Regions from separate parts of the Homo sapiens genome. Here regions 2, 3, 4, 5 and 6 are each reported to be linked to region 1. Evidence: microRNA targets listed by miRTarBase, many of them from high-throughput screens and not tested one by one. Region 1 holds a microRNA gene; each other region holds the end of a gene's coding sequence.

The links. Region 1 holds the annotated microRNA hsa-miR-122-5p (UGGAGUGUGACAAUGGUGUUUG, at 3,099-3,120, shown strand). A microRNA usually pairs through its seed, bases 2 to 8, with sites in the 3' UTR of a target mRNA and lowers its output. Matches are read on the target gene's strand: a 7mer-m8 pairs with bases 2 to 8, a 7mer-A1 pairs with bases 2 to 7 and ends in A, and an 8mer does both.
Region 2: miRTarBase lists TMEM74 as a target of hsa-miR-122-5p. The part of its 3' UTR that is shown has no 7-base or 8-base seed match.
Region 3: the mRNA of MASTL is a reported target of hsa-miR-122-5p. Seed matches in the 3' UTR shown: 7mer-A1 at 1,273-1,279.
Region 4: miRTarBase lists FOXJ3 as a target of hsa-miR-122-5p. Seed matches in the 3' UTR shown: 8mer at 3,977-3,984.
Region 5: the mRNA of FUT8 is a reported target of hsa-miR-122-5p. Seed matches in the 3' UTR shown: 7mer-A1 at 1,230-1,236.
Region 6: miRTarBase lists RBL1 as a target of hsa-miR-122-5p. Seed matches in the 3' UTR shown: 7mer-A1 at 4,085-4,091 and 8mer at 2,298-2,305.

The regions. Positions count from the first base shown.
Region 1 is chr18:58,447,990-58,453,065 of GRCh38, forward strand. It overlaps MIR122 (microRNA 122), which reads left to right and starts at 3,085; the gene lies at 3,085-3,169. It overlaps MIR122HG (MIR122 host gene), which reads left to right. Exons shown (of 3, transcript NR_170245.1): 2 at 1,320-1,551; 3 at 2,830-3,292. MIR3591 (microRNA 3591) reads right to left here and starts at 3,163; the gene lies at 3,091-3,163.
Region 2 is chr8:108,779,956-108,785,031 of GRCh38, reverse strand. TMEM74 (transmembrane protein 74) reads left to right here. Exons shown (of 2, transcript NM_153015.3): 2 at 1-5,076. The coding sequence ends at 851. Among named protein-coding and RNA genes, the nearest start is that of TMEM74, 5.1 kb to the left of the region's middle.
Region 3 is chr10:27,185,992-27,191,067 of GRCh38, forward strand. It overlaps MASTL (microtubule associated serine/threonine kinase like), which reads left to right. Exons shown (of 12, transcript NM_001172303.3): 12 at 388-1,962. The coding sequence ends at 545. It also overlaps a transcript of ACBD5 not described here. Among named protein-coding and RNA genes, the nearest start is that of MASTL, 33 kb to the left of the region's middle.
Region 4 is chr1:42,175,131-42,180,206 of GRCh38, forward strand. FOXJ3 (forkhead box J3) reads right to left here. Exons shown (of 13, transcript NM_014947.5): 13 at 1,418-4,695. The coding sequence ends at 4,580. Among named protein-coding and RNA genes, the nearest start is that of GUCA2A, 13 kb to the left of the region's middle.
Region 5 is chr14:65,741,641-65,746,716 of GRCh38, forward strand. FUT8 (fucosyltransferase 8) reads left to right here. Exons shown (of 11, transcript NM_001371533.1): 11 at 453-2,481. The coding sequence ends at 770. Among named protein-coding and RNA genes, the nearest start is that of MIR625, 270 kb to the left of the region's middle. RefSeq lists an enhancer at 3,664-4,625.
Region 6 is chr20:36,994,191-36,999,254 of GRCh38, forward strand. RBL1 (RB transcriptional corepressor like 1) reads right to left here. Exons shown (of 22, transcript NM_002895.5): 22 at 2,159-4,739. The coding sequence ends at 4,569. Among named protein-coding and RNA genes, the nearest start is that of SAMHD1, 45 kb to the left of the region's middle.

The DNA.
Region 1 (5,076 bases):
CAGGGAAGCTAAACAGAATCCCTCAAGGCCTTTTCCACACTGTAGAAAATTGTGCTGGCATTTGGACAAGTCACCCTGCTTAATATCAAACATCTTTGCCTTAAGCATTATTTTTTCAAAGGAAATAACGTGTTAATACTTCCCAACCAGTGTATAATGTTTCTATTTGTTATTAGCTCGTACTATTTAAGTTCAGTTGTTAAGTTTGAAAATACTAGAACATTAAAAATCTGCAGAATGAGAAATTATTTTGTGAATGTTTAAAATATTCAAAAGTGGATCCTGACACTAACCACTTTTAATTTATTTTACTAGCGATATATTATTGGATGACTTTTTTTTTTTAAAAAAAGAAAACCTTCTGCTTGTTTGTTTAAACTGCTTTGTAAATTGACAGTTTAACCACCTCTGCAGAAACAAAGTAGTAATAAAAGATGTTGGCCATTTTAGCAATGTTTAAAAATTGCTCACAAGACAGAAAATGATTGGCACTCAATATGTGTTTAGTGATTGATGCAATAATACCATAAAATTATTGTACTGCATAATAAAGTATTTCACTAATAATTTGCTAAAAAATTAGCCTGAGGCCTGCCACTCAGCACAGCACTAACTTTTCATGCTTGTGACAAGTTGTATATGAGCAGGATGGGTTCCAACCTTCCCAATTTCAGAAGAGTATTTTGCAAGAAGGAATTTGTATTGAGAGTCCAGAAAGAAAATTGCCTAAAAGTTTTTAAATCCTCATTTTTCTCAATAAAAAAGTGCCATATGAATCATAAATTAACAAATGCACACAAAAGGAGAAAATGAAAACAAACCATAATTTCTCTACTGAAAGATAACCATGGTTAACATTTGATGTTTTGGCCTCAGGCATGTATGCATTTTTTCACAGAAAGGGACTCATACTGTGTATATTGTTTTATAAACTGTTTTTTAATTCAATAACATATCTTGAATTTCCAAGTCTACCAGACTTTTCTACAGAATCAATTTAAATAATTATGGTCTATCATAAATATATTACTCTTCTCCTATAGCTGGACATTTAGGTTGTTTCCAATGTTTACCCTTATAAACAATGCCACTATGAGCAACCTTATAGGTAAATCTTTCTACAAATTTTTGACATTTTCCTGGAGATAGATTTCTGGGCCATAGAAATTGAGGTTGATTTGGGGTGGGGGGAGTTGGTAAGATTTACCTGTAAAGGTTGATTTGGGGGGTGGGGAGTTGGTAAGATTTACCTGTAATGCATTAACTTCCTCATCTCTTTTCATCTTCCATCTGTTCCTTCCCTTTTCTGTATTTTGCAGATTATTCAAAGCCAAAAGCCAACAGAGCCCCCATGGAGAAGTGGAGGATGCTCAGATACTGCTATGGAGCCCTGAGAAGTGAAATGGGTCCAAGCCCTTGCCCAGGATAGAGCGCTCCAAGCGCATCCTCCGGGGACCCTTTTAATCAGTGAATTGTTCACCTCTCACTGTTTCTTCCCAGCAGAGCTAAGAGACTTCTAGAGCCTCTTGTGGATGGTCAGCGATAGCCCTGGTATGACCAGGAGGTGGCGATTTCTGTTCTAGGTCCCTCAGCAAAGACTAAGCAGGACAAGCCTGGCTACTGTGTTAGGAGGAGCTGTAGGGAAAGGGAAGGACAAGATGGGCCACCACATGCCTGTGTCCACTGCTGGCCACACCCAGAGTGCTAGGGGTTTGTGGCAGTGACTGGGGCCACCTAGAGCAGTTCTAGGGTTCGTAGTCATTCTCTCTGAGTCATGGAAAACTGCCCAGGAGGCGAGTCCCACCTAAGAGAGTATGTGTAGCACTGGCACGGCCTGCTGCCTTGCAAATGACCACATTTCATGAAAGAAAGCCAGGGCCACAGACAGGAACCAAAGGAAATCAGTCACTTAGGGGAAGATAACGAATCCACAAAGTGAAAAAGGGAAAGAAAAAAAGAGGCAACTTCAACACTCCAACCCATGGGAGCAGAACGACTTTCAGCTTTCGCAGGGGGATAATCACTGCAAGTCCAGCTTGAAGAGGGTGATTTCAGGATCTACATGAGAATAAGGCGCAATTTTTTTTTTTTTTTTCTGAAAAATACGGAAGGGTTCATTTACAGCTGTTAAAGATGGGCCGGTTTTAGGGCTAAAGCAAGACTCTGGTCAGATGTTAACAACTCAGTTATCCTGGGGAAAAAATAACTGGCTCCCAACCCTTTCCCTTTTCAGCATTTGCAGGAAAAGAAGGAGTAGGTAAAATGCTTTATTTCCTCTCATTCTCCATGGTGGGCAGGAGTTCACATAACAATTATAAACCATCTTTAACAGGAAAGCCAAGTAAATCCTGTAGGGATTTATTTGGAGCTCCCTTTTTGCTAGAAAATGAGTATCATGAACTAAAAATGGACTCGTTTCCTCTCTCTCCATCTTCCTCTCTTTCTTCTCTCCCCTCATCTCCCACCCACCGCCATGGTGGAAAATGACTGTGGTCAAGAAGATTGAACATTTGAGCAAGACCAGATGCCTTTATATCCAATAGATGCCACGGAGAGTAGATCACAACACATCTAACTGCTGTATCCCCATATAAAATAATTTTAATTTTCCTAGACTGCAGAATTGATCACATTTACTGATGATGGATTGGGAAGTAGGTGAAGAGGTGAGAGTTGGAGAGTATCCATTCATTCGGCCAGATTATTCTCATTTATAATGTAGTCTTCCAATAAGTATTTATTTCCAGAAATCTATTCCCTCTAGAGATTCTTTCTCTCTCAGCCATTTTAGAAAATTGTTGCAAACAGAGTTCCTGTCCATTTTCACAGGAAGTTTTTGCAGAAGGGGTTTGCTGGGTGGCAGTGGAACACAGGCAGTGGACCCCTCTACTACTCTACTGTTCCAGAACACAGAAGCCTTTCATTGAGAGTGTTCAGCTCTTCCCATTGCTCAAGATGCTTGTACCCGTGATGCTTCTTTTCTCTGCTTAGGTCACAATATGTGGAGCTGACAAGGTTCCCCTATTATCAGTGACAATGGTGGAATGTGGAGGTGAAGTTAACACCTTCGTGGCTACAGAGTTTCCTTAGCAGAGCTGTGGAGTGTGACAATGGTGTTTGTGTCTAAACTATCAAACGCCATTATCACACTAAATAGCTACTGCTAGGCAATCCTTCCCTCGATAAATGTCTTGGCATCGTTTGCTTTGAGCAAGAAGGTTCATCTGATATCAGTCTTCTCAATCTTGTGTACTTACTGAATAAAGTCTGGCTCTTTTGCACTCATAACCAATATGGTTAGCTGAACCCTGCCTCTCACATGCTGTTGTTACATACCTTAGCTGGTGATTAATTTTCTTGTTTTCCCAAGTCAATAAAAAGATTGCAGACCAGGCACGGTGGCTCACGCCTGAAATCCCAGCACTTTGGGAGGCCAAGGCAGGCGGATCACTTGAGCTCAGGAGTTCAAGTCCAGCCTGGGCAGCATGGTGAAACCGTGTCTCTACAAAAACTACAAAAATTAGCCAGGCATGGTGGCATGTGCCTGTAATCTCAGCTACTTGAGAGGCTGAGGTGGGAGGATCAATTGAGCCCACGAGGTTGAGGCTGTAGTGAGCTGTGATGGTACCACTGCACTCCAGCCTGTGTGACAGAGCAAGATCCTGTCTCAAAAAATGAAAATAAAAAGATTGCAGAGTTCCTCAGAGCCCCCAACACAAGGCCAGGCACGAGGTAATCATTTAACCCATGCTTATAGACTTAAAATGAATAGTTAGGAAAGTGTTAGACGCAGAAGGCTAAGACTGGGCTAAATCTATGTTATGCAGACAGACCGCAAGCTTATAGGTACAAAATTAAGGTGTGTGGGTCCTTCTCTTTTCGTCGTTAAAAAATCCAACTTTCTAATAAACTTACACATGGTTTCACTGACGTTTCAGAAATTCTAGAATATGTTTGATTTCTACTGATTTCAATCAATTACTAGGCTGATTACTGAATTCGTACACTAGGCCTTTCTTCCTCTTGCATCAGTGAATTACCATCAGAAAATTGTTTATGAAGCATGTGTGAGCTGCCATAGCAAATCTGGGACCCATGCAGTTTCTAGGACAGTTGGCCCAGCCAGGTGCTCTGGTTTGGAACCCATTCTGTCTCTGAGAGGTGTCTAAAGTCAGGAGTAGGTTTCGTTTGTGCCAGACTAAAGCTTCCCTCCCCAGGCTTGGTTAAATGAAGTAGGACATGTTTAATCAAATAGACAGGGTTAGATCAACCATCAGAAACAAATTCAACCATTCAACCATTCACTTATGAAATAAATATGTGTAGAGACTACCGTGTGCCTGACACTGTCCTAGGCATTGAAGACACTTTTAAATTAAATGTGTCTGATGTTATTTCCAGAGATGGGCATTCACTGGCTCGCATTATATTTTGGGACCATTGTAATTGTTCCAAACGGGAGCCAAATGAGCAAAACTTTGCGAAATAATTCTGAGTCCCTTGCTGGAAAGCCTCACCTGAATGCAGCCCACACATTTATGATACACTACAAAGGCTTCAAGGTCATGAGATGCCTCTGTCCAAAGAAGAAGAAGAGCACCCCTGCCTGCCCTGCATCTCTTACCACCTCTCATTTCTTCCCTCCTGGCACCATCTACTGTCAAGAAGAGAATCAGACTCCCTGAAATAATTGAGACACTGACATTCCTTTTTGTGTGTATTTTTTTGGCAAAGGCTCTAATTGAACAGGCATTAATAGAGGGCTCTACTGTTATACAGATCACGCTCATGCACACTGTATTAGTCTGTGTTTTCATGCTGCTGACAAAGACATACCCGAGACTGGGAAGAAAAAGAGGTTTAATTGGACTTACAGTTCCACATGGCTAGGGAGACCTCAGAATCATGGCGGGAGATGAAAGGCACTTCTTACGTGGCATCAGCAATAGAAAATGAGGAAAAAGCCAAAGTGGAAACCCCTGATAAACCCATCAGATCTCGTGAGACTTATTCACTATCATGAGAATAGCAGGGGAAAGACTGACCCCCATGATTCAATTACCTTTCCCTGGGTCC
Region 2 (5,076 bases), not on the chromosome of region 1:
CAAGAGGGCTGCCTGGTGACCAGGCAGATACAGCAGCCACAAGAGCTGCTCTCTGCTGTCAGAAACAGTGTGCATCCACCCCAAGAGCAACCGAGATGGAAGGGTCTAAACTTAGTTCTTCTCCAGCATCCCCCTCCTCCTCTCTGCAAAACAGTACTCTTCAGCCAGATGCCTTTCCACCAGGACTTCTCCACTCAGGGAACAACCAAATAACAGCGGAACGGAAAGTCTGTAACTGCTGCAGCCAGGAATTAGAAACTTCTTTTACCTATGTGGACAAAAACATCAACTTGGAGCAGCGGAACCGGAGCTCGCCATCAGCAAAAGGGCATAATCACCCTGGGGAGCTTGGCTGGGAAAATCCAAATGAGTGGTCCCAAGAGGCTGCCATATCTTTGATATCTGAAGAGGAGGATGATACAAGTTCAGAAGCCACGTCTTCAGGGAAGTCTATAGACTATGGTTTCATCAGCGCCATCTTGTTCTTGGTCACTGGGATCCTGCTCGTGATCATCTCTTACATCGTCCCACGGGAAGTGACTGTGGACCCCAACACTGTGGCAGCCCGGGAGATGGAGCGCCTGGAGAAGGAGAGTGCGAGGCTGGGGGCTCACCTGGACCGCTGTGTGATTGCGGGGCTCTGCCTCCTCACGCTGGGGGGCGTCATCCTGTCCTGCTTGTTAATGATGTCCATGTGGAAGGGGGAGCTCTATCGTCGAAACAGATTTGCCTCTTCCAAAGAGTCTGCAAAACTCTATGGTTCTTTCAACTTCAGGATGAAAACCAGCACGAATGAAAACACTCTGGAACTGTCCTTGGTAGAGGAAGATGCGCTTGCTGTACAGAGTTAATTCTGGTTGTGAATATCTTGAGAGTCTGCCTTGGCATTTTATAATATGAAAAAAGTTAATTTATAAAAATTCACAGTGCAATTTATTTGCCTGGCAAGAAAAGTTTATTTCACAAACCAACAGCCAGTAAGTGTTTTTGTTCTCTATGTGTCTTCTATTTAGAAGAAAAGCCATGTAAGATGTATAAGAAACCACAACCAGCCACACCTATCCTTCTGAAGAGCTGAAGGCTAATTAATCTGTAATGGCCAAGAACTTCTACTTCGATAGAAAAATATTTCTAATGACCCAGTCTACAAATTATTTCTTTTACACAAATATATGATGTTATTCTTTGGACACTAGGTGGTCCTACACACAGTAGGATCAATTGCTAATCTACTTTGTGAAAAAGAACTAAGCACTAATCAATAATAAGGCTTACATCTAATTCTCAAAGGTGCTTATCCATTTTCTTGCTAAATTATCCTTCTTGTAATTTGGCTAAACACTAAAACATGGAATTTTTAGTTTGAATATTTTGAAGTTTGAGGATGTTGGGCTTTCCTTATTGTAAAAAATGTTATGTTTGAAATTATTCCTGTTTTCAAAAATGGTAATTAAGTCATTAGGATAAACTTTCTAATAAAAAAAAATTATGTAAATCATTGTAAGACCAATGTGAATTTAAACCACAGTGTTGGTGCCAGATATTAGCCAGGGTCACAGGCTCTTTTTTAAAATGAAGTCAAATTAGTTACTGATATAAGTTTTATATTTTGTGATTTTGCCATCATACTGGTTATCTGTGCTCTTGAAGTCTGCTGGTTCTCACACCAGCAGCAAGAGGCAAGGCATGAGACATTTTAAATATATTTCCAGACATCTAAACATCTAGACAGGCCTGAGTCATGATTGGCTCTGGTGTGCTTCCAGGTAACATCTTGTTATTGCTGTTTGGGGAAAACCACCAATAGAATTGCAGCTAGACTTTTGGGGACTGTGCCTCGCAGGCTGTATCACTTGCTGTAGGCCAAGCAACGAGCACTTCCCTCATGGTAGCAACAGTCCTTAAGCCCAAAGCCAAAAAAAAATAAAATGGAAAGAGAGATTCAATACACTGATTTAATGGGGACTGTAGTCATCGTCAGAACTCACCTCCCACTCACAGTGGTCTAGATGTCATTCAGCAACTGTGAACTCTTGCCTCATGCAGCACAAACTCTTCTCTAAGAGCAGCATGATGAGCAAGGTGCTCACTTTGCAAGACACACACTGGGTGTTCACAGTGACAGACCGCCTCATTATGGTGACGGTTCAGAAAAGGGATGGGAAATGCAGCCTCAGAAATACCTTACATTTTGCAACTCTGCCTGGAGGTTTTTCCAACCTGTGCTCTAAGAGTTGTTGTAACTTCCATGATTGTGTTACCAGGATCAGGGGGTCATTCTTAAAAAGAGGACAGGAGCTGGGAATTGGTATGAGACAGCAGGAATGAGGAAGTAAGAAAGTGATTTCTTTGCAGATTTTTAAAGGCTATTTCAAATGTCTGAAGTTTGTGGTGTTGTGGACAACTGTGGAATACATGGGTGACTTTGGCAAAATGTGTGAATCAGGATATTTATGTGGATGAGCTCTCATGGGTGTCAGATTGATTTGATGAGTGAGGTATGCTGCATATGACTTAAGGGTTGAACTGAAATACAAAAAGGGAGGCTCAGAAGATAGTAAAAAGAGAGGATGGGCATATGAAAGAATTATTAAGTAAAAATGAGAAATTATATGGCCATCAGAGGAAGCTAGATGTAGTTAATTGCCTTATGTTATAGAGCAATACTGATTACTGAAAAGAAAGAATTGAGATGACATAAACATGATTTTTGCTTTCTGTTGCTGTATTTTTGTGCTTTTTGAACAAACTTTGTTTTACTGTGACTCTCATTTCATGATTTTTGTTGAGGCTGCCTTACCAGTGGTATAAGTTTTATATTCTGAAGGTTTCTAAGTCCAGCTCTAGCCTGCTTAAGGATCCACTTTGGATGATGTTGAAACAAGAAGGAAACGATCTGCTGAGTGAGTAGGTCTGAGCTGTGTGTTAAAAAAAGAAGGCATTAAAAAAAAGAAGGCATTAAAGAAAAAACTAATGTTTATTCATAGAAGCTAAATGAGATCAACTGAGTTTTTATTTATTGGTGAAACAGGATTAATTAGCCAAATGGCAGACTAAACTGAATTAATGTGGAATCAATTTTCAGTTTATGAAGGAAGAGGAGTTTGGGAATCAAGTGTTAGGAGGTCTTTTCACTTGATAATAAAGCTTTTCATGTGGAAGCATTTAATGAATCTTGCAGGGCTACCAAATAATATAGATTTGATCTAGAGGTAACATTTTGAAAAATGCCATTTTGGAAAAAAAATATTCAACGGGGGAGAAAAAGACCTAACACATCAAAATACATTTCCTTTCTTTTCCCTAGAATGCTATAATTTCCTTTAAAATTTAAAATCGAAATGTGGTAAGTAAATGCACACTTCAACATTATTTAAATCTGCTAACATATAGAGCACCTCTCTTTTAAGGTTCTACTTATCTGAGGGCAAACCATTACACATTACATGATTTTGAAAATCATCTGAATGACTTCTTTTGGGCTGTGGTGACATTATTCAGATACTTGCCTTAATCGACTTTTCCCTGGGTATTTGGTTTATGTAGCCCTTATCCATCCTGCCTGAATTCAATATGAAGATTACTTGAATTTAAAATGATGGTAACACAGGCAAAGAAAAGCCATGTGCTTTATTTCCTGTTTTTCCCAATCTGACAAAGAGTGTTTTTGGCTCTAGAGGTACTTTGGCAAGACCAGGTGATGCATTCTATAGACATTGGGCATACAATACCTATAGTTTTGGTCTTGCATCCTTCATGGAGATTTGTGACCTTCCGTCTGTCTCTTCAATATGGTGCTGGTTGTTACCTGTGAAAGTTTTTATTGCTAGTCCTAGAGAAGAAAAACATATTTCAGTGGTTCTAGGTCTTTAGCTTATTTACATGGTTTTAGAAATCTAAACTCAAGAGTCATCTTCCTAGTCTCAATGAGAAGACAGCTCGTCTTTCAGCAGTGTGGCCCAATGGGGTGAGTTACAGAAAGAAAGCTGTCTTTCTCCTTTATTACTGGGATCTACACGCTGCTGGTGGATGATTTAAGGCTCCTAATATCTTTATAAGCCAGTTCTTTTTAGGGCACCTTAAACTGTTAGTGGTAGAGTTTGCAAAGAGTTTTCTTTGCAGCGCTGTGTGTCCTTCCCACCCATTGGGAGCTCTTAAAGCAGATCACATAATAAGATGTACTGGCCCCTCATATAAAGAACAGCTTTTCGTCATGCTCCCCACTGTGTAGGTGATTTATAGTTTACAGGAAGACAAGACTGCTTGGAACCATGAAGTTCTTGGAGGCCATGGTTGCTTTTACCCACATGACTGCTATAACCCTTGATTCTGTTCTATCAAGTTACTTGCCTTGATATCATCACATGCTTTGCTGTCTGCTTAAAATATGAGTTCATCCCCCTCATACTTATTTGTTTTAGGGACCCAATTGGACCAGTGCTGGCACATGCCCTTCAAGGTACAATTTCTGAAAAGAGACTGCGCTGCCAAACTTATGTGTGCCTTTACCTCAGTCCCCCCAGTATAAGGGGTGACTTAATCTTGATAAATGAGTGACTGAGCACCATGCTAGTTAAATATTGAGAATTAAAAGCCTGAACCCAATGGCTCTATTTTTTTTTACCACCTTCTGACAAGCAAAAATTCTAGGCAGGAGCATGTGAACATTTTGGTCTTCATCTTTCACGTGTGCAATGATAGGTGTATGCAAAATTTTACTTGGATTAATTGTCAAGTTAAAAAAGTGTTCTATATGTATATCTCTTAGGAGAAGGTTTTTCAACCTGAAGGTCAGATTTCATTGCAGCAATTAATGCCATCAAAAAAACGTGGTCTGACAAAAAAGATTCACAACCTTTGCCAGTGGTTCACCTATTACAGCAAGATGTAATACTATCAATACTTACTGTTCTCTGTAATGGGTTTAACCTTTCCCAGAATTGGACATAAAGAATGACTACGATGAGAAGATTATAATGAAGTCTTACTGGCTTTTCCTAGTCTAAAAAGAGTACTTAAGAAAGAGAATTAACATATCATTTCCTTTTGGCTGATTTTTAGCTATATCTGTTTTTG
Region 3 (5,076 bases), not on the chromosome of region 1:
GGTAGGAGAATCGCTTGAACCCGGGAGGCGGCGGTTGCAGTGAGCAGAGATCGCGCCACTGCACTTCAGCCTGGGCAACGGAGCGAGACCTCGTCTCAAAAAAAAAGCTGTGAGAAAGATAGGCTTCTAAGTTAAGGCAAATCATTCATTCTGTCATTAAACAAATACAAACCAGGCACCTGTCATATGCCAAGTGATATTCAAAATGGCCCATGTAGACCTTTGTGAAGTATGTGGCCTAACAGACATTAAACAAATGTCTGTGAAACTGACATAATAAAGTAAGGTAAGTTATATGTGAGACATTCTCTTTTTATAATAATTCCTGTAAAGCAGTACTTACTTAGGTAATGATATCATACTGTTTTGTTTTATATTTTTCCTAAGAGCTAAAACGTCATCCTCTCTTCAGTGATGTGGACTGGGAAAATCTGCAGCATCAGACTATGCCTTTCATCCCCCAGCCAGATGATGAAACAGATACCTCCTATTTTGAAGCCAGGAATACTGCTCAGCACCTGACTGTATCTGGATTTAGTCTGTAGCACAAAAATTTTCCTTTTAGTCTAGCCTTGTGTTATAGAATGAACTTGCATAATTATATACTCCTTAATACTAGATTGATCTAAGGGGGAAAGATCATTATTTAACCTAGTTCAATGTGCTTTTAATGTACGTTACAGCTTTCACAGAGTTAAAAGGCTGAAAGGAATATAGTCAGTAATTTATCTTAACCTCAAAACTGTATATAAATCTTCAAAGCTTTTTTCATTTATTTATTTTGTTTATTGCACTTTATGAAAACTGAAGCATCAATAAAATTAGAGGACACTATTGAGAGTGAGCCACTAGCTTGATTTTCTTTCTCCTCTGATTTCAGTTCACTGTTCAGTTTAGCATTAAAATAATAAAATAATCATACAGTTCCATTTGATTGTAATTTACTTGCATATGATTACCTTCAAAAGCTGTGTTCTTGAGGGCAATCATTTAAGGCCATACTTGTGACCTCAGAAATGCAGCTGGAAGGCCGGGCGCAGTGGCTCACGCATGTAATCCCAGCACTGTGGGAGGCCGAGGCAGGCTGATCTTGAGGTCAGGAGTTCAAGACCATCCTGGCCAACATAATGAAACCCCATCTCTACTGTAAATACACAAATTAGCCGGGCATGTTGGTGGGCGCCTGTAGTCCCAGCTACTCTGGAGGCTGAGGCAGGAGAATCGCTGGAACCCAGGAGGAGGAGGTTGTGGTGAGCCAAGATCGTGCCACTGCACTCCAGCCTGGGCAACAGAACAAGACTCCGTCTCAAAAAAATAAAGGCAGCTGGAAAATTCCTTCACTTAGTAACTCCTTTGGGGAATAAGGAATAAACAAAAAGACTAAGGCTTTCACTTACTTTACTAATGATACGGTTTTGCCACCTTAATTTCTATTGGTGCGTAGTCCACAATATGTATTTGTTTAAAATGGTACTGGAGGACGGGTGCGATGGCTCATGCCTGTAATCCCGGCACTTTGGGAGGCTGAGGCAGGCAAGTCGCTTGAGGCCTGGAGTTTGAGACCAGCCTGGCCAACATGGCAAAACCTGGTCTCTACTAAAAATAGAAAAATTAGCCAGGTATGGTGACGCACACCTGTAGTCCCAGCTACTTGGGAGGCTGAGGCATGAGAATCGCTTGAACCCAGGAGGTGGAGATTGCAGTGAGCTGAGATCACATCACTGCATTTCAGCCTGGGCAACAGAATGAGACTCAGTCTCAAAAAAAAAAAAAATACTACTGGAACAATTAGGTGTGATATAATGTAGCAATTTGAATAGCTTGTTCAATTTTAATAGAAAATGTGATGCTTTACATCTTATTGTCATTTATTTAAAACATGCAACATTATCAGAAACAGATTGGTCCTTAAAAAACAAAACATAATTTTCTTTTGCTTAATAAATATAACTATCACAAGTACATTATCTGTCAACATCATTCTTTTCAACAAAGCGAGACCCCATTTCCGGGGGAAAAAAAACTTGTTCCTTTTGCACATCGGGTTTAGTGTTTTTACTTTCCATTACCATCCCAATCAACAGCCCTGTTGCAATGTAGTTGACAAAATGTACAAATTTAAAATGGTTACAGTGAAAGATACACCATTATAATTAGTGCTATATAACTGAATCCATGGGTTAATGGTTTTACTGAGCTTGTTTTAGTAATAACTACTTAGATTTAATGGTCACTTCTAGTAAAATGTTCAAAATACAGTTGTTCAAAACTTTGAATTACATCTTTCCCTTAAATTAGGCAAAAGCATAGAATTATCTATTATCCTTTTATGGTATTTGCCAGTAGTAGAAAGAAAAAAAGTTTGGGAATCAAACACAAATTGTTGAAATCACTGCTCTGCCACAATAAAAGGCCTCTGGCAGGTTAAACTGAGCTATTGATGACTCACTGTATAGTGGGGATTAATAGTGATTAATTTGGAGAGTTGGAATGAACAGAGTAGATTGAGGAACAAGCCAATTTAGTTGCTACCCAGGATATTAACCTTAACAGGGACTTGAAACATTACTGAATAATCGGGGAAATGTTCTCTGAGCATATTCCCAATGCACAAGACAATGGCCTTGAGTGGAAAGTTACACTGTTTACTAACAGACCTAGCATGTGAAGCTATAGTCACTTGAAATTCAGCCACAGGTAAGGCATGCTGTAATGGTATTTATTGGGAACAGGTGACTTATTATCTAAATTTATACCTGTCAAGATGTAGATTCAGACACTTGCTAGGGAAAAACCTAAGAGGAAAGAACAATGGGAAAAAGGGGATGGTTTTGACAGCTGATGTATATGTGTGCATGCACGTCTTTAAAAAACACCAACGGCCACCAATAGAAATCCACTCATCTTTTGCTATGAAGGAAATCAGAACATATCATCCTAAAATGCCTCTTTGACATAAAAATATTTTTGAGCTAAAGGCAGTTAAGAAGCAGCAAACTGAGGAAAGCTCTCGCCATCCCCCTGCCTTTCTGCCCAAAGGCAGGATATAACTTCTCCTTTGCTGGAGACAATTCTAGAGTCTTATCTACCAGGGACAGCACCAGAGGAATTGGCAAAGAAACCTTATTCAATTAGTTTCCTCCCACATACAGTGTTTGCCTTCCCAAAGGTTCCAGTCCTTGGAAGCCTAAAACCACTTTCCTTTGTCCTGTCATTTCTCTACAAATGTATTGTTCTTTGTTGGCCAGGCTGGTCTCAAACTCCGGACTTCGTGATCCACCCGCCTCAGCCTCCCAAAATGCTGGGATTACAGGCGTGAGCCACCCGGCCAGCTATATACAGTTTGTATTAATAAAAAATAATTTGTGGCTGGGCATAGTGGCTCACGCCTTTATTTCCAGCACTTTGGACAGCCAAGGTGGGATGATTGCTTGAGGCCAGGAGTTAGAGACTACCCTGGCCAACATAGCAAGACCCTGTCTCTATCTAAATTTTTTAAAAACCGTCATTCTCAGCAAACTATCGCAAGGATAAAAAACCAAACACCGCATGTTCTCACTCATAGGTGGGAATTGAACAATGAGAACACATGGACATAGGAAGGGGAACATCACACACTGGGGCCTGTTGTGGGGTGGGGGGGAGGGATAGCATTAGGAGATATACCTAATGTAAATGACGAGTTAATGGGTGCAGCACACCAACATGGCACATGTATACATATGTAACAAACCTGCACGTTGTGCACATGTACCCTAGAACTTAAAGTATAATAAAAATATATATATATATATATAAATAAACTTTTGTTTTCACAACGGCATAATGTTTATTGGATGAATTTAGAAAAAGAGTAAAAAGAAAAAATAAGTTGGTATCTGTTAAAGGAAAATGTTTTATTCTTACATGAAAAATGCAAAATAATAGATGTGACTTGTTTTCCTTTGGAGCTCCAAAATAAAAATATCAGTAAACACTTATCTAAAAAAATAAAATAATAATTGTTTTTTAGGCTGGGCATGGTGGCTTACGCCTGTAATCTCAGCACTTTGGGAGGCTGAGACGAGTGGATCACAGGAGGTCAGGAGTTCGAGACCAACCTGGCCAACATGGTAAAACCCCGTCTCTACTAAAAATATAAAAATTAGCCAGGCATGATGGTGCGCGCCAGTAATCCCAGCTGCTCGGGAGGCTGAAGCTGGAGAATTGCTTGAACCTGGGAGGTGGAGGTTACAGTGAGCCAAAATGGCGCCATTGCACTCCAGCCTGGGTGACAGAATGAGACTCTGCCTCAAAAAAAATTATTTAAAAATGTTTTGTCCCACCCCCATTAAATGTTAAACAAATCCAGAAATTATGTTTGAAGAATGTCCTGTTTATCTTGGCCCACCTATGTTAGAATTAAGTAAGATGAAGTACATAGCAAACATAAAAGGTGTTTAATAAAATGATAATTATTTGAACCCTAAGTACCCTACTGCCTCCTGGAATATGTACTTTAATTTTGGGTTCGGGAAGTGGTAACTATATAAAGCCTTACTATTATGCTCCAAAACATCTTGAAGGACATTCGGGTCTAATTCCTCTATTTGCTACAAAGAACTGTCTTATTTTTAGCCATTTATAAAAATGCTGAGAGTCCAGAATATAGTACAAATATATTTACTGTTTACACCAGGTCTTTCAATTAATACCAAGCCAACCATGGATGAGTCATTCTTTTAACTGTGTGGAAAGTGTATTGTACGGGACAACATTTGAAGGAAGGAGACTGAATAAAAGGCTTCTGCACCAGCCCACCTGGATTCAAGACATATTTTAGAGGTAGGAGCAACAGGACTTTACTGATATATGGGATGAGACAGGTGAGAGAATGGAAGAGCCACATTTGACACCTAACTTCTGGCTTGAGCAGTTGGGTGGATTGTGGTGCTGCACCCTGAACTGGAATGAGGGACAGGATGGGTAGACATACTAAGTTTGAGATGTCTGTGAGACACCCAAATAAAGAATTCAAGAAATCAGTTGGACACCTCCAAATAAAAATGGTATGTCTGCAAATTCTTTTACACTCTT
Region 4 (5,076 bases), not on the chromosome of region 1:
ACATGGACACACACACGGAGGATAGTCACTATCCTTGGCTTTGGGAAAATTCCTCTTTTTAGATAGCAGTGAGGTAAAAGGAAATGAACTCTGGAGTTAGGTCTGGACTGAATTATTCCAGCTCCTCTATTAGCTGTGAGAATTTGGGCAGGTTAACTTTTCTGGGCCTTGTTTCCCTATCTGTAAAACTGCCAAAGATGTTTCTGGTGGCATTGTGTGGGTTACGTTAGCAGCAGCCTGAGGCTTTGGGTAGATCATGGGATTGATGAAAAGGTCCCCCTTCTAGAGTGGGAGGGACTCCAGGTTAATCTCACTTCCAGCCACATGGCTGGTCTGCCCGTTGCTTAGCCTCTCCGGGCCTGTTTCCACATCAGTGAAGTGGGGACAGCATTTCTCACAGAATTGCTACGCTCAGCTCTTGACCAGCAGCCCTGCACTTCTCTTGCCTCAACCCACAACCCCCATGCTAAGGTAGCTCCCATGCCTTGCCCAAGGTAATGGTATAAATGGCAATACCTCCTCCCATCTGTCTGGGACCCTTTGAAGACTCAACTTGGTAGCCCATACCTGGAGCCTCTCCTAAACCACGGCCCCAATCCTCAGTATGACCTAACTCCGCATCACCAGAATCTTGCCTTACCAGAGCATACCTTCAGAATAGCCTCCCTGGGCTGGCATTTGCTACCTGTCCTGGGCAAGTCTGCACCCTCTAAAGGCAGGAACTGCGGCTTCCTCATCTCTGGATTTCTCATGAGAGGGCTTAACACAGAATATGTGCTCAGCAAATGTAAAGCCCCACTTTCACCTTTTGGAAATAGCTCTGGGAAGGCAGTGCTGGGGACAAGATGGGGCAAGGGCAGGGGGTAGGGAGAGGGGAATTCCCTCAGTAAGTATGAGAGGATTGTGCAAAAAACATGATGCCTGGAATCAAATGACCTGGATTCAAACCTCTGCTCTATCACCTGCCAACTGAAGAATCTAGACAAGTTTCTATACCTCTATCTGAGCTGTTCCCATGTCGGTAAAAGGAGGACCACAATATCTACTTAGCACAGCACCTGGCACATACTGAGTACCAGTATGCTTTATGTCCCATGTGCTGTCCTAAATGTTTAAATGTACTGATTTATGTAAATCCCACTACAACTCTAGGAGGCAGATACTATCCTCATTGTACTGGCGCTGCAAATAAGGAAAATGAGGCCCAGGGAAATCCAGTGACTTCCCCAAGTTCATGGAGCTAATAAGATGCTCACTAAATGGCAGCAATTACTGTCCTCAGGTAGTAATGCAAAGGACACAATCTCAGTGACCCCAAGGACTCTGGGGTCCTGGCTGTGGGGTTTCTGCACCTGGACTAGCTCCATTCTCACTTCTTCAATTACAGCAAACAACGGAGACCAATCAGTGTTGTAAATAGAGTTAACATAATATATTTATTTTAAGTGCCATTCATGCATATCAGTTCTGGCAGCAACAATCCTAATGACACTTGGAATATTTCTTTACAGCACTAAACAGTTACAAATAATGGTTGCCGTTCATCATAGAGGCAAAATATGAAATCGTGCAATAGCAAAACTGTAGAAACATTAAAACACTGACTGTCCAACAGCAGTACAGAGAGCAGGTTGTATCTGCACAAAAAGCCAATGCATTTTCATCACATATATACAATATAGATATGTACACATCACCCTCTGAATGAACAATATCAAAATACTCTATTCCATTTGAAATTATCCCCGGATTGATTCCCTCCCACTTCAAAGGACATCTGAGCGACACGTATTTACAAGAACACACATGAATACATTTACATTTCAAAAACTGCCACAAATGCCAGTCGGATTATTCTCCTGAACAGAGTGTCCCCATTTGTTTACATGCATTTACTATTCTTTCCCCCTAAAGTCTTCAGTCAATTTAAGCCCAAGACAGAACTTGTTCTGCATTAGCAACTACCATACAAAATGGCCACTAGAGGGACTCTCTGCACCTCACCAGGTAACCCTGTCTGGCCAGGGCCCACAGAAAAGGCCTGTCCTGGGCTCCTGGACCACCTGGATCACAGGAGAGTGGGATGGGTCTGGGTGAAGGCTTTGCCTCCATGGCCATTCTTGCTAAGTTTAAATTCTCATAAAAATATTCATCACTGCAAATCAGTAAATGATTGCCAAATGGGAAATTCGCTTCACACAATTTATAAAATCATCATCAGTGGTTCTACTCAAATCACTCAGTATGAGACTGCATTCCAATATCCAAATTGTTTAAAGTGCACATTGCTACCCAAGCAATTAAAACAGTTTCAAAACAGCTATTTTGGTGTCTAGAAAACAGTGACTTAAGCAAACCATTGAAAATCACCCCTCTTTTTTCAAGCATTTACTCTGCAGGCTGCCATCTCATCTTGCCTCTGATCCTTCTAAGAGGCGCAAGTTGGCTGCCTTTCCAGAATCCTCTGATTTTCGTTGATCCAAGGGGCTGGAACTGAGCTTCCTTTTTCATGCCAAGTAGGGTCCAAACAACAGAGAAACATAAAGCTCTTCCTTTCTCCCCAACCTCACCAGCCCTTACCATGGCTGGCTTCCCAGTGATTCATTCAAGGCAACACTCCATTAAAACACACACACACACACGCGCGCGCACACTCTCACACACAGCACACACACACAGAAACAAAAGATGTTTGTTTAGTTCAAGTAGAGATTACTCAACCATAGAATCACTAAGGCTAATTAAAGTGATTTAGCATGGCTGATAAGACCAGAGATGCTAAAAAGCAACTAGTGAGCAGTTATTACTCTTTGACTTGATGGAATATATTTCCCCATTAGAACTGACACTTTTTGGGGGGTCTAAAGAATCAATTCAAAATCTATTCATTAAAAAAAAACCCTCATTTCTTCTAGTTTTATCATAAAACTAAGATAATCAGTCCATGCAAACTGTGATATGATATGAAACAAAACAAACCACCACCACTAAAAAACCCGTAAGAGGGGCTGCATTTCAAAGAAAGGGACCAAATGTCATGCATACACAGACATACAAGACAACAGAAACAGCAGGCCACATAATATCTACATTAAACACTGAAGCAAATAAAACTGTAAGTGGCTCTATCCTCCTTTCAAGACAACCTAGATGAGTGGGGAAACCTGCTTTAGAAACCCTGCCCTGCTGTTGTTGCCCAAATGAAATCTGATTCAAATTCCAGAAAAATCCGATTTAACTAATAAGTCTGAATCAGCAAGAATGCCAAGACAGAGAAATCTATTCACATGGTAAAAGGAGTGATGATAGAGAATGACACAATGTCTCTCTGAGTGTCTTATCTGTAAATTCTTATCAAGAAAAGTAACGCTGGGCCAGGCGCAGTGGCTCATGTCTGTAATCCCAGCACTCTAGGAGGCTGAGGCAGGCAGACTGCCTGAGCTCAAGAGTTTGCAACCAGCCCAGGCAACATGGTGAAACCCCATCTCTACTAAAATACAAAAAATCAGCCAGGCATGGCGGTGTGCACCTGCACTCCCAGCTACTCGGGAGGCTGAGGCAGGAGAATTGCTTGAACCCGGGAGGCGGAGGTTGCAGTGAGCCGAGATCGTGCCACTGCACTCCAGCCTGGGCAACAGGGCAAGACTCCATCTCAAAAAAAGAAAAAAATAATAATAGTTCTGTGCTTTCAGACACATTTCTCCTTAATGAACCCGACAGGAGCTAAGCATTCACAGAAGGTAGCAATAAATATTAAAATGACACTTTTGAATAATAAATACATAGGTGAATGTGGAAGCACTGATGTGTTTAAAGAGCCAAGCAATGCCCAATTTCTTACCAATCAACAAATTTTAGAGCTATTATAATGCAGATTTAGAAAAGCAGACATAAATACTCTATGATCCCCCAAGCATCAAAACCAATTTGGTCAGTTCTTCATGCTGCTCAGGAGCAACATGCCCCTTCGGATTGTTGGAGTGTGTCAAATTCTGGTTTCCTTGACTTATTAGATAGAATTCATTACCCACATTTCTAAAAAAGATTAAATAAGGGGAACTGGGTTTTGGAAAAAATCTATTTCCTTTCAGTTTCCTACATCAGTTAAAAGCATCCTGCAGAAAATAGCCTAACAAGGAATAAAAACTGACAATAACTTTCAAGACATAATAATCCAATTAGAAAAAACTGAAGCCTTTCAGTAATTTTTGTACATATATTTACACATATGTATCTTTATATAAACTGCTTGCAGCAAAATAGGCTCCGTCTGAAAAATCAGTCTGGCACTTGTGGTTAACATCAAACTGACACAAATATGCAAAAAGCCGTCCAAATCACACAACAGTTAGGAGCTACATAGGGCAGCTGGCAGGGAGACAAACATGTAGTACTTGCTTGGGTCAGATAAAAGCAGTAAGTTATCCAGCTAAAATCCTTCTGATTGTCTTCAAAAGTAATTTTGATAACATTGGTAAAGTGATTAGCAAGTTTGTTTTCTCAACTGGATTCTCTTAAACCTTTCCCTTCACTGCACAGAAAGGTAACGTTAGGGTCTGGTGTCTTGCAGAAACAAGCCCTACACAATTGAATCCCAATCAAAGTCATCCTGGATGTCATCTGGAGGCAGGGAACGCCGCATCTGGAAGGCTTGGGAAGGCATCATGTGCTGCTGGTTCATGGCTCTGTGATGGCCTGGAAGGAAAGAGGCAATAATAGCAGCGACTTGGGTAGAGAAGAAAGTAAGAAATAAACTAACCCCTACTGTGTACTTCCTATATGCCAGGCACACATTATCTCACTAATTCAACCATAAGCCTTCAAAAAGTGGCTCTTATGATCCTTATTTTATAGGTAAGGGGATACGGTTTAAGAGGATGAGTAAATTACCCAAAGTCACACAACCAGTAGGGGACAAAGATAGGATCTGAGGTCAGTTCACTTGATCCACACTCCTTCCATTATACCAGGCTGCAGTAAGGAAGACACGAGAAAAGTGCCAATGTAGCCACTGCTCTTACAGTCTGTTTTGCTCCAATACGTTGTTTCAGTAACATGAATTGGCTCCCATGAGAA
Region 5 (5,076 bases), not on the chromosome of region 1:
ATGAAGGAAAGGGACCATCAGCATTTATTTGTGTTAAGTTTTTTTATCCTAATCCTAAACTTCAAATTCTTTAAGGGCACAAACTATGTCTTACTCATTTTGGTATCATGAGTGCCTAGCTTGGACCACTGTGTATGTAGCTCTTAATAAATGTTTGTTAAAATTAACTAATTCATATTCTTAAATTCTTTTGTACTATATAGAGATAGAGAGATTTTAATTGTAATAATCTTTCGTGAGTTTTTCTTCTTTATTTGAAAAAGGATCCAGACACAGAGATGAAGAATGACTTGTACCATCTTCTGAGAACAAATGGACTGAAAGCTTGTGACTAGAATCCACTACTTTTCAACCTCTTACTCCTAGAGCCCATCCTTTTGGCCAAGGGCTTTTAGATTGCTGTGAAGGAGAGTGTTTATATACTAACAATTTCTTTTAAATTCTTTCCCAAGGTCTGTCGAGTTGCTTATGAAATTATGCAAACACTACATCCTGATGCCTCTGCAAACTTCCATTCTTTAGATGACATCTACTATTTTGGGGGCCAGAATGCCCACAATCAAATTGCCATTTATGCTCACCAACCCCGAACTGCAGATGAAATTCCCATGGAACCTGGAGATATCATTGGTGTGGCTGGAAATCATTGGGATGGCTATTCTAAAGGTGTCAACAGGAAATTGGGAAGGACGGGCCTATATCCCTCCTACAAAGTTCGAGAGAAGATAGAAACGGTCAAGTACCCCACATATCCTGAGGCTGAGAAATAAAGCTCAGATGGAAGAGATAAACGACCAAACTCAGTTCGACCAAACTCAGTTCAAACCATTTCAGCCAAACTGTAGATGAAGAGGGCTCTGATCTAACAAAATAAGGTTATATGAGTAGATACTCTCAGCACCAAGAGCAGCTGGGAACTGACATAGGCTTCAATTGGTGGAATTCCTCTTTAACAAGGGCTGCAATGCCCTCATACCCATGCACAGTACAATAATGTACTCACATATAACATGCAAACAGGTTGTTTTCTACTTTGCCCCTTTCAGTATGTCCCCATAAGACAAACACTGCCATATTGTGTAATTTAAGTGACACAGACATTTTGTGTGAGACTTAAAACATGGTGCCTATATCTGAGAGACCTGTGTGAACTATTGAGAAGATCGGAACAGCTCCTTACTCTGAGGAAGTTGATTCTTATTTGATGGTGGTATTGTGACCACTGAATTCACTCCAGTCAACAGATTCAGAATGAGAATGGACGTTTGGTTTTTTTTTGTTTTTGTTTTTGTTTTTTCCTTTATAAGGTTGTCTGTTTTTTTTTTTTTAAATAATTGCATCAGTTCATTGACCTCATCATTAATAAGTGAAGAATACATCAGAAAATAAAATATTCACTCTCCATTAGAAAATTTTGTAAAACAATGCCATGAACAAATTCTTTAGTACTCAATGTTTCTGGACATTCTCTTTGATAACAAAAAATAAATTTTAAAAAGGAATTTTGTAAAGTTTCTAGAATTTTATATCATTGGATGATATGTTGATCAGCCTTATGTGGAAGAACTGTGATAAAAAGAGGAGCTTTTTAGTTTTTCAGCTTATTTACTTTGTTTTTTTTCCTGTTTCTGATATAGTAACTAATTCTTAACTCAGAGACATTGGTCCATTTTAATACTGAAAACCAATTTTCATTGGTACACATTACAAAATTGCTAAGAACACTGTTTGGGAGCTTTCATTCTCATATTTTGGACATTGTTTTAATTGAGTGAAATAATCATAACTCCTTGCTCCCAGAGAAGCTATCACCTCCATTTCTAAAACCATTTCAGGTTTGTTTGGTAGTCTTTCTTAATGTATTTATTATCGCTTTTTGTGAGTAGGGTCCTGTTTTATCCAGGAACCAATTTCTGCCCTAGCCTATCATGCCCTGCTTTTGAGAGTACCAGGTATCTTTGGGATTGGGAAGCTGGCTGTTTCAGAAGTATATGTCTCATAGTGTGCAGAACTTGGTGACCAAGTGAGAAGCGGGACCAATGGGAGACTCACAATGGACTGAGTCTTGGGATTATCTTTTCCAAATTCTTCCATGTTAGAATCACTTCAGAAAATAAGACTTTGATGCTTTGTCTCTGAGCATCATTTTTCTCCTCATAAAAACACTTCCTTATTGTATGTAGCCTGCCTCCTACAGAGGCCTGGTAGGTGTTACTGCATTCTAAAAGAAAAATGTCATCTCTGTAGGAGCGACTATCAGGCCTAGTGTGAAATATTAGGGATCCTAGGCAGAAGAGCTATTAGTCCTGGCCTTCATATCTTCACCAAATGAAAATACTGTATATAAAATTTCACCACCAAACTTAACTAAATTCTTTTTCTCAAGTCAAGCCTCCCAAAGAAAAAAGAAATTAACTTCCTACAGTGTCAGCAAGCAATTTTCCATTTAGTTTTGGTACAAATAAAAGTCATTTGAAACAATCTCCAACTGAGCGGAGGTAATTTTGATTATGAGTTATTTTGCAACTCGCATCTCACATGTCATTGGAACATCAGTAACTGTGGATCTGATTTGTGCCCTTATAGAAGATCCAAAGGTAAATTAAGTTAGTCTCTTTTCCTTCTAAATTGACCGAGTTCCAGGGGTGAAAGGACCAAAGAACAGAGATACGAAGGAAATAAATTAAGGAGTATTTCCCAAAGGGAGTCTTCAACTGAAGAGTTAATTTTTGACATTTTATCATTTGGTTCTAGAATTTCTCCCTAATTCTTTATATTTCTCTACTGAGATTTTTTTATTCACTACATGCATGTTTTCATTGAACATAACTATGTAGTGAATAAAACTATGAACCTTGAACATAACAGATGAACATAACTATGAACATAACCGAACAAAACATTGAACATAACTATATAGTGAATAAAAAAATTATTTGTTCTCAGTAGAGAACACATAAATAAAAAAATTATGTGTTCTCAGTAGAGAACACATAACTATGTTCAATGAGTTTAAATTATGCTTTAAAATTCTTTTCTGGTAAATTTGACATCTGGATAATCTTAGAATTGGTCTCCATTGTTCCTCTTTACAGAATGGTCAGATTTTGGGGGGAGGTCCCTCATATATTGAGTGATTTAGATTGTGTCCTGAACATTGTAATGTTTATGTTGTAGATTCTGTTATATTGCTCTGAAAAGTGCTGTGATATATACATATACACACATAAATATACATATACACAAAAATATATATATACAACATTTGTGTATTACATTTGTGTGTATATATAGACACACAAATATATATATACAAATATATACACACACAAATATATATATATTGTGTATGTGTGTGTGTATATATATATATTGCTTGTGTTAGCAGGCATTTAACTTTATTGGACTCAAACTGTAAACTCTCTTGGGCAGCAGCTGAAAATCTCAATTCAGTTAGCTGGAGTCTATGCTGCACATAGTTCAGGGCTTAGCCAGAGAGATGGATAGAATTTATGCACAGAATTTGTGGTGCTTTTTCTTTGGCTCTCTTTCTTCTGAGATTTCCCCCCTCATTTTCCAGCAGCTGTGGTTGCTCTGATTCTTAGACCAGAAAAACTGCAGTTTTCTTTCAGCCCAAAAGCTGTACAATGGGAAACTCACCTTGTGCCATTCCCTTCTTTAAAATTTCAATCTCTTTTCAGAACTTGCCTGTTTTTATTGTCTCCTACCCTCATGTATTTTTTGTATTTTTTTGAGAGTTTATGGTTGTTATTCGTTGGAATATTGGTTCAGTGGGTGCTTACTCCACCATTAACTTAAAATGAAAAAACAGCAGGGGAGAGGACAGGTTTAGTCTTGTGAAACCCCTGTTGAGACTTTGGCCTCAATAGCCAAGTAGCCAGTAGCCTTACGTAAGAAGATGAAGAAGTAACCAAACTGTTAAACCTGCTCTTGTGAAGGGCTAATGAATACTGTTGACCACATCTTTCTAAATCGCCTTTGTAATCATCACATACATGATGGTGATTCATTCAATACATGTTGCCGTGTTGAGAAGGCTGACATTTTTCTTACCACTATTGTAATTTCTCCATAAAGCCCTGGTACTTAAAAAATCCTGCATGATTTTGAATTGAGTGGCCAGTGCTAGGTTAGGATTTGGGTCTTTTCCTTGTTGAAAGACCTATTTCTGAGAGACTTGCCTGGAATTAAATTATTATCGTGGGCTCATTGAATGTGGGTAACAAAATCCTGCTTATTAATGACAAAGCAATTACGAAAGATCTCACCAAGGCTTTCCTAGTTCTTCCACTCAAGTCTGATTTAGTGCTCAGCTGGGCGCTTAACGAATTCATGCCTGTTGTGAAAGCCCTAATCCAGGATTTCATTGTACCTAAATGAGTAAGAGACTAGTTCCTTTTCTGTTCAAGCTTTAGGTTTTTGTTGTTGTTGTTATATAGAGGCAATCCTGTTTACTGGGTTCCCTCTTTGTAAAGTTGAGAAGATGAACAGCCCCAGCTTCTAAGGGAGTTGAGAGTTAAAAGAGAAAAAAAAGCACATTTTAAAAGCTACCTCATACAATGATTATTGTCATTATTATTTGGTTCTGAGAGGATACAGTCACTGTGTATTCGGTGAGCAGGAAAAGTGTTGGGGTCTAAACGGTGCATCTAGAAGAGTCTCTTCTGCCTCAGTGAGAGCAAATCTCTCAGGGGAAAAAGACAAGTCTCCTTTGGCCATAGCCAATTGCCCGATACTTCATTTATGCTCTCAGGAGACTGTGCATTAGGTTCCATAGACCTGCACAGAATAGACATGTGGCTTGAGGATTGGTGAAATTGACAACTTGGCTACAATACCCTAATTTATGTCAGATACAGACTGTATGGAATTTTTAAAGTGTGCTGCTCAGAAAGGAGCACAAAAAATTTGCCTCTATACTTACTGGTTCCTAGCACCAGTCTCTCTCATGGACACATGGAAGAGCTGTTCCAGGATCACAGGCCTTGGAAAGTTTGGGCTTTGAGTTCCTGGCTAGTCTTACCTCCCTATTAATTTGCATAAGAATTTCTGGCC
Region 6 (5,064 bases), not on the chromosome of region 1:
CAACAAGAGCAAAACTCCATCTCAAAACAAAAAACAAACAAACAAAGAAAATCCCATTTTCTGAGGAGAAATTCAAGCTGGCTGCAGAAATTTGCATAAGCAATGAGGAGCTGAATGTTAATCACCAAGACAATGGGGAAAATGTCTTCAGGGCATGTCAGAGGTCTTCATCACATCCCCCCGACATTCACAGGCCTGGAGGTTTAAGAGGAAAAAGTGGTTTTGTGGGCTGGGCCCAGAATCCCCTTGCTGGTTGCAGCCTGGGAACTTGGTGCCCTACGTCCTAGCTGCTCCAGCCGTGACTGAAGGGGTCAATGTAGAGCTTGGGCCATGGCTTCAGAGCATGTACGCCTCAAGCCTTGGCAGCTTTCACATGGTGTGCACAGAAGTCAAAATTGAGGTTTGGGAACCTCTGCCTAGATTTCAGAGGATGCATGAAAATGCCTGGATATCCAGGCAGAAGTTTGTTGCAGGGACAGGGCTCTCATGGAGAACCTCTGCTAGGGCAGTGTGGAAAAGAGATGTGGGGTTGGAGTCCCCACAAAGAGTCGCTACTGGGGCACTGCCTAGTGGAGCTGAGAGAAGAGGGCCACTGTCCTCCAGACCCCAGAATGATAGATCCACTGATAGCTTGCACTGTGTGCCTGGAAAAATCGCAGACACTCAACACCATCCTGTGAAAGCAGCCGGGAGGGAAGCTGGGAGGTAAAGCCACAGGGGTGGAGCTGCCCAAGACCATGGGAACCCACCTCTTGCATTAGCATGACCTGGATGTAAAACATGGAGTCAAAAGAGGTCATTTTGGAGCTTTTAAGATTTGACTGCCCCACTCAATTTCAGACTTGCATGGGGCATGTAGCCCCTTTGTTTTGGCCAATTTTTCTCATTTGAAATGGCTGTATTTACCCAGTGCCCATGCCCCTGTTGTAGCTAGGAAGTAACTTACTTGCTTTTGATTTTACAGGCTCATAGATGGAAGTGACTTGCCTTATCTCAGATGAGATGTTGAACTGTGGAGGTTTGAGTTAATGCTGAAATAAGACTTTAGGGGACTGTTAGGAAGGCATGATTGGTTTTGAAATCTGAGGATGTGAGATTTGGGAGGGGCCAGGGGCAGAATGATATGGTTTGGCTGTGTCCCCACCCAAATCTCATTGTGAATTGTAACTCCCACAATTCCCATATGTTGTGGGAGAAACCCAGTGGGAGGTGATTGAATTATCGGGTCAGGTCTTTCCTGGGCTCTTCTCCTGATAGTGAATGTGTCTCATGAGATCTGATTCTTTTAAAAACGGGAGTTTCCGCTGGGCATGGTGGCTCATGCCTGTAATCCCAGCACTTTAGGAAGCTGAGGCAGGTGGATCATGAGGTCAAGAGATCGAGACCATCCTGGCCAACATGGTGAAACTCCATCTCTACAAAAATACAAAAATTAGCTGGGCGTGGTGGCACACGCCTGTAGTCCCAGCTACCTGGGAGGCTGAGGCAGGAGAATCACTTGAACCCGGGAGGCAGAGGTTGCAGTGAGCCAAGATCCCACCACTGCACTCCAGCCTGGTGACAGTGCAAGACTCTGTCTCAAAAACAAACAAATAAACAAACAAACAAACAAAAAACAGGAGTTTCCCTGCACAAGCTCTCTTTGCCTGCCACCATCCATGTAAGATATGACTTGCTCCTCCTTGCCTTTTGCCATGGTTGTGAGGCCTCCCAGCCACGTGGAACTGTAAGTCCATTAAACCTCTTTTTCTTCCCAGTCTCGGTTGGATATTTCTTTATCAGCAGTATGAAAATGGACTAATATAGTATCTAAGACTTAAAAAAAAATTTAAGGTGAAATCAAGACTTAAAAAAAAATTTAAGGTGAAATCTACATAACACAAAATTAACCATTTTTAAATGTCCAATACAGTGGCATTTAGTAAATTCACAATGTTATGCAACTACACCACCTCTATCAAGTTCCAAAATAGTTTCATCACTCCCCCCCCAAAAAACTCTGTATCCATTAAGCAGTTATTTTTCATTTTCCCCCTAGACCCTGGAAACCACAGGAACATTAACTTTTAAGTTATTCTAAGGAATTTTAGAGACATAGATATTAAAACAGACAGATTTCAGATGGCTGTGCAACTGCTTCCAGTCATACAGAAAAGAGTTTTTTTTCAATAATCTCAATTCCAATTTTTATTAGCCATTCTATGTACATTGATACCAAGTCCTGAAAACTGATAAAAACATGTCCAGAATTTCTTTTTTTCCTTTTCTGAGAAAGGGTCTTGCCCTCTCACCTAGGATGGAGTGTAGTGGTGCAATCACAGCTCACTGCAGCCTCAGAATCTCCCAGTCTCAAGTGATCCTCTCATGTCAGTCTCCTGAGTAGCTGGGACTACAGGCACATGCCATCACACCCAACTAATTTTTTTATTTTTTGTAGAGATGAGGGCTATGTTGCCCAGGTTAGTCTTGAACTCCTGGACTGAAGCAATCCTCCTGCCTCAGCCTCCCAAAGTGTTGGGATTATAGGCATGAGCCACAGGACCTGGCCCATGGTTTCTTATACAGTCAATGTACAAATGCTCATTTATATTTTGCACAATAATGAAGATAAAAATAACAATTATAGCAACATACAAATATGTACAAAGATTCCAGACAGACTTTGTTTTTTGGCTTATAACAATGTGTAGATACTACACAAAGAATGAGGATGTAATTTTCATTTACAAGCAAAATGTGACCAAAATCCCTTTTCTTCTTAAAATTGAAAAATGAAATTCTTGAGAATACTAATTAGTGACGGCCAAATCTTAGACTATTTTAAATTAGCCATGGTTAAACATAGGTGAGTTAAACATTGTGCCTTTCCAAAATTAAGGTTTGCAGTTAGAAACATAAACATTTGATAAAACTTCTCAAAATTAATTATGAGTGGCTTATTCATGTCCTTTGGATTCCAGACACACACTAGAAAAAGTAAACGTTAAAGAGGTGATATTTTGGAAAGCATCCCTAGTACTGAAAAGCATCCCTAGCACTGAAAAAAGCATCCCTAGTACTGAAAAGCATCCCTAACACTGAAAAAAGCATCCCTAGTACTGAAAAACATCTTCAGGAGTACTCAGTACTCCCTAGTACATCCCTAGTACTGAAAAAAGCATCCCTAATACTGAAAAGCATCCCTAGTACTAAAAAACATCTTCAGGAGTACCCAGTGGTCAAACACTAGCAGGAAACTCATGATGCACTAACAATACTGAGAACAAAGTGTGGGAAGTAATAAGCAGCTATTTTACTGATGTATTAAATATATTAGAATTATGAGGCATGAGATGATATTTATGTGATTTTTAAAAGGTTTAAAATATTCTTAGGGACTCAATTAGATATTGAGAATGACTGATAACTATGATCTCAAAAACAGTATATCACACATAATCATGGTGTTACCTTACTAATAGGAATTTAGTTTTTAATAACTAACTGAATTTTATTTTACTGGCTTCAGAAGCAGCTGCCTATTTTGAGAACTACATGAGTTAATACGATCATATATAATTAAGTTAATGTCACAGAAACCAAAATGATAATAGTTTACAAAAGAAGAAAGTGCCCCATTTATTGGGTTGTGACATCAGGCTGAGATGGCTTAGGGCTGGAAAGCAAGGATGAGTGTAGCACTGGGGCTCAGGTACAAATCTGTTTATAAAGCTCAAGGAGAGAAAAGGCACGAGAAGGGGTGAGACAACTCTGAATGGCGGTGGTACCTGGATGTGGAATTACCACAGTGGGCCAGAGACAGGATGGTATATAACCCTCTGGCCAGGTACTATGGGAACCAACCCCTTCCTTCAATATTAAATTAAGAATACAAATATCTCAAAGCATGCTATCAAAAGTAGATTATTTATCCTCATATTACAGAACACAGAAGGAGACATTTATTTTTAAAAGAGAGCTAAAAAGTTATGGGGTTTCTCCTTATTTCATCTTGAAAACTCAAGGAGCAAACATTAAAAAAAATTCCCTATTTATATATATATATATATTTTTTGAGATGGAGTTTTACTCTTGTTGCCCAGGCTGGAGTGCAGTGGCGCAACCTTGGCTCACCACAACCTCCGCTTCCTGGGTTCAAGCAATTCTGCCTCAGCCTCCCAAGTAGCTGGGATTACAGGCATGCGCCACCACACCCGGCTAATTTTGTATTTTTAGTAGAGATGGGGTTTCTCCATGTTGGTCAGGCTGGTCTCGAACTCCTGACCTCCGGTGATCTGCCCGCCTTGGCCTCCCAAAGTCCTGGGATTACAGGCGTGAGCCACAGCGCCTGGCCGGACTATTAGTATTTTTAAAAGGCACTTAAAATATTCCTTTCCAATCCAACTCAAAATACATCTCTGTCAACTACATTTTGGATAAATATTTTAAAAAGCACATAATTTTTGTGCAATTTTTTCTTATAACCCAGTGATATTTATCATCTATAGGGCTAAAAGGTTTGAAGGACAGAGCTCCAACTTTCTGCAGAACAATCTGAAAGTGCTTTTATCATAGAAACAAGAACAACATTAATGATTTGCTCTTTCACTGACAACATCCTGTAGTCGTTTCAGTAAAACGTCATCATTTTCTTGACAGACGCGTTTGGCAGGGGATTCTGCATCACTATCGATGGCTATTACTCGCTTCTTGGTTCTCTGCTCACCTTGCCTTATCATGTTGTTGATATCTTTCAAACTCTGTGCAGAAATAGAGAACGTGTGTGAGTAAAAGAGGGAGAGGGGAAATGGCAGCAAACAACCAAGCTAATTGTTTTTTCCTGTGCTCTATCCTCTATCCAAATCTTAACACTGGGATAAGGACTCTTTTTAAAACTTAGAACAACCTAATAAGGGATGGCTTGAACTAATCTTTTCAGGTGGTTTAAAAATTAGATTTAAGGCCAGGTGTGGTGGCCTGTAATACCAGCACTTTGGGAGGCCAAGATGGTTCAATCACTTGAGCCCAGGAGTTTCAGACCAGCCTGGGCAACATGGCAAACCTGGTCTCTACAAAAAATACAAA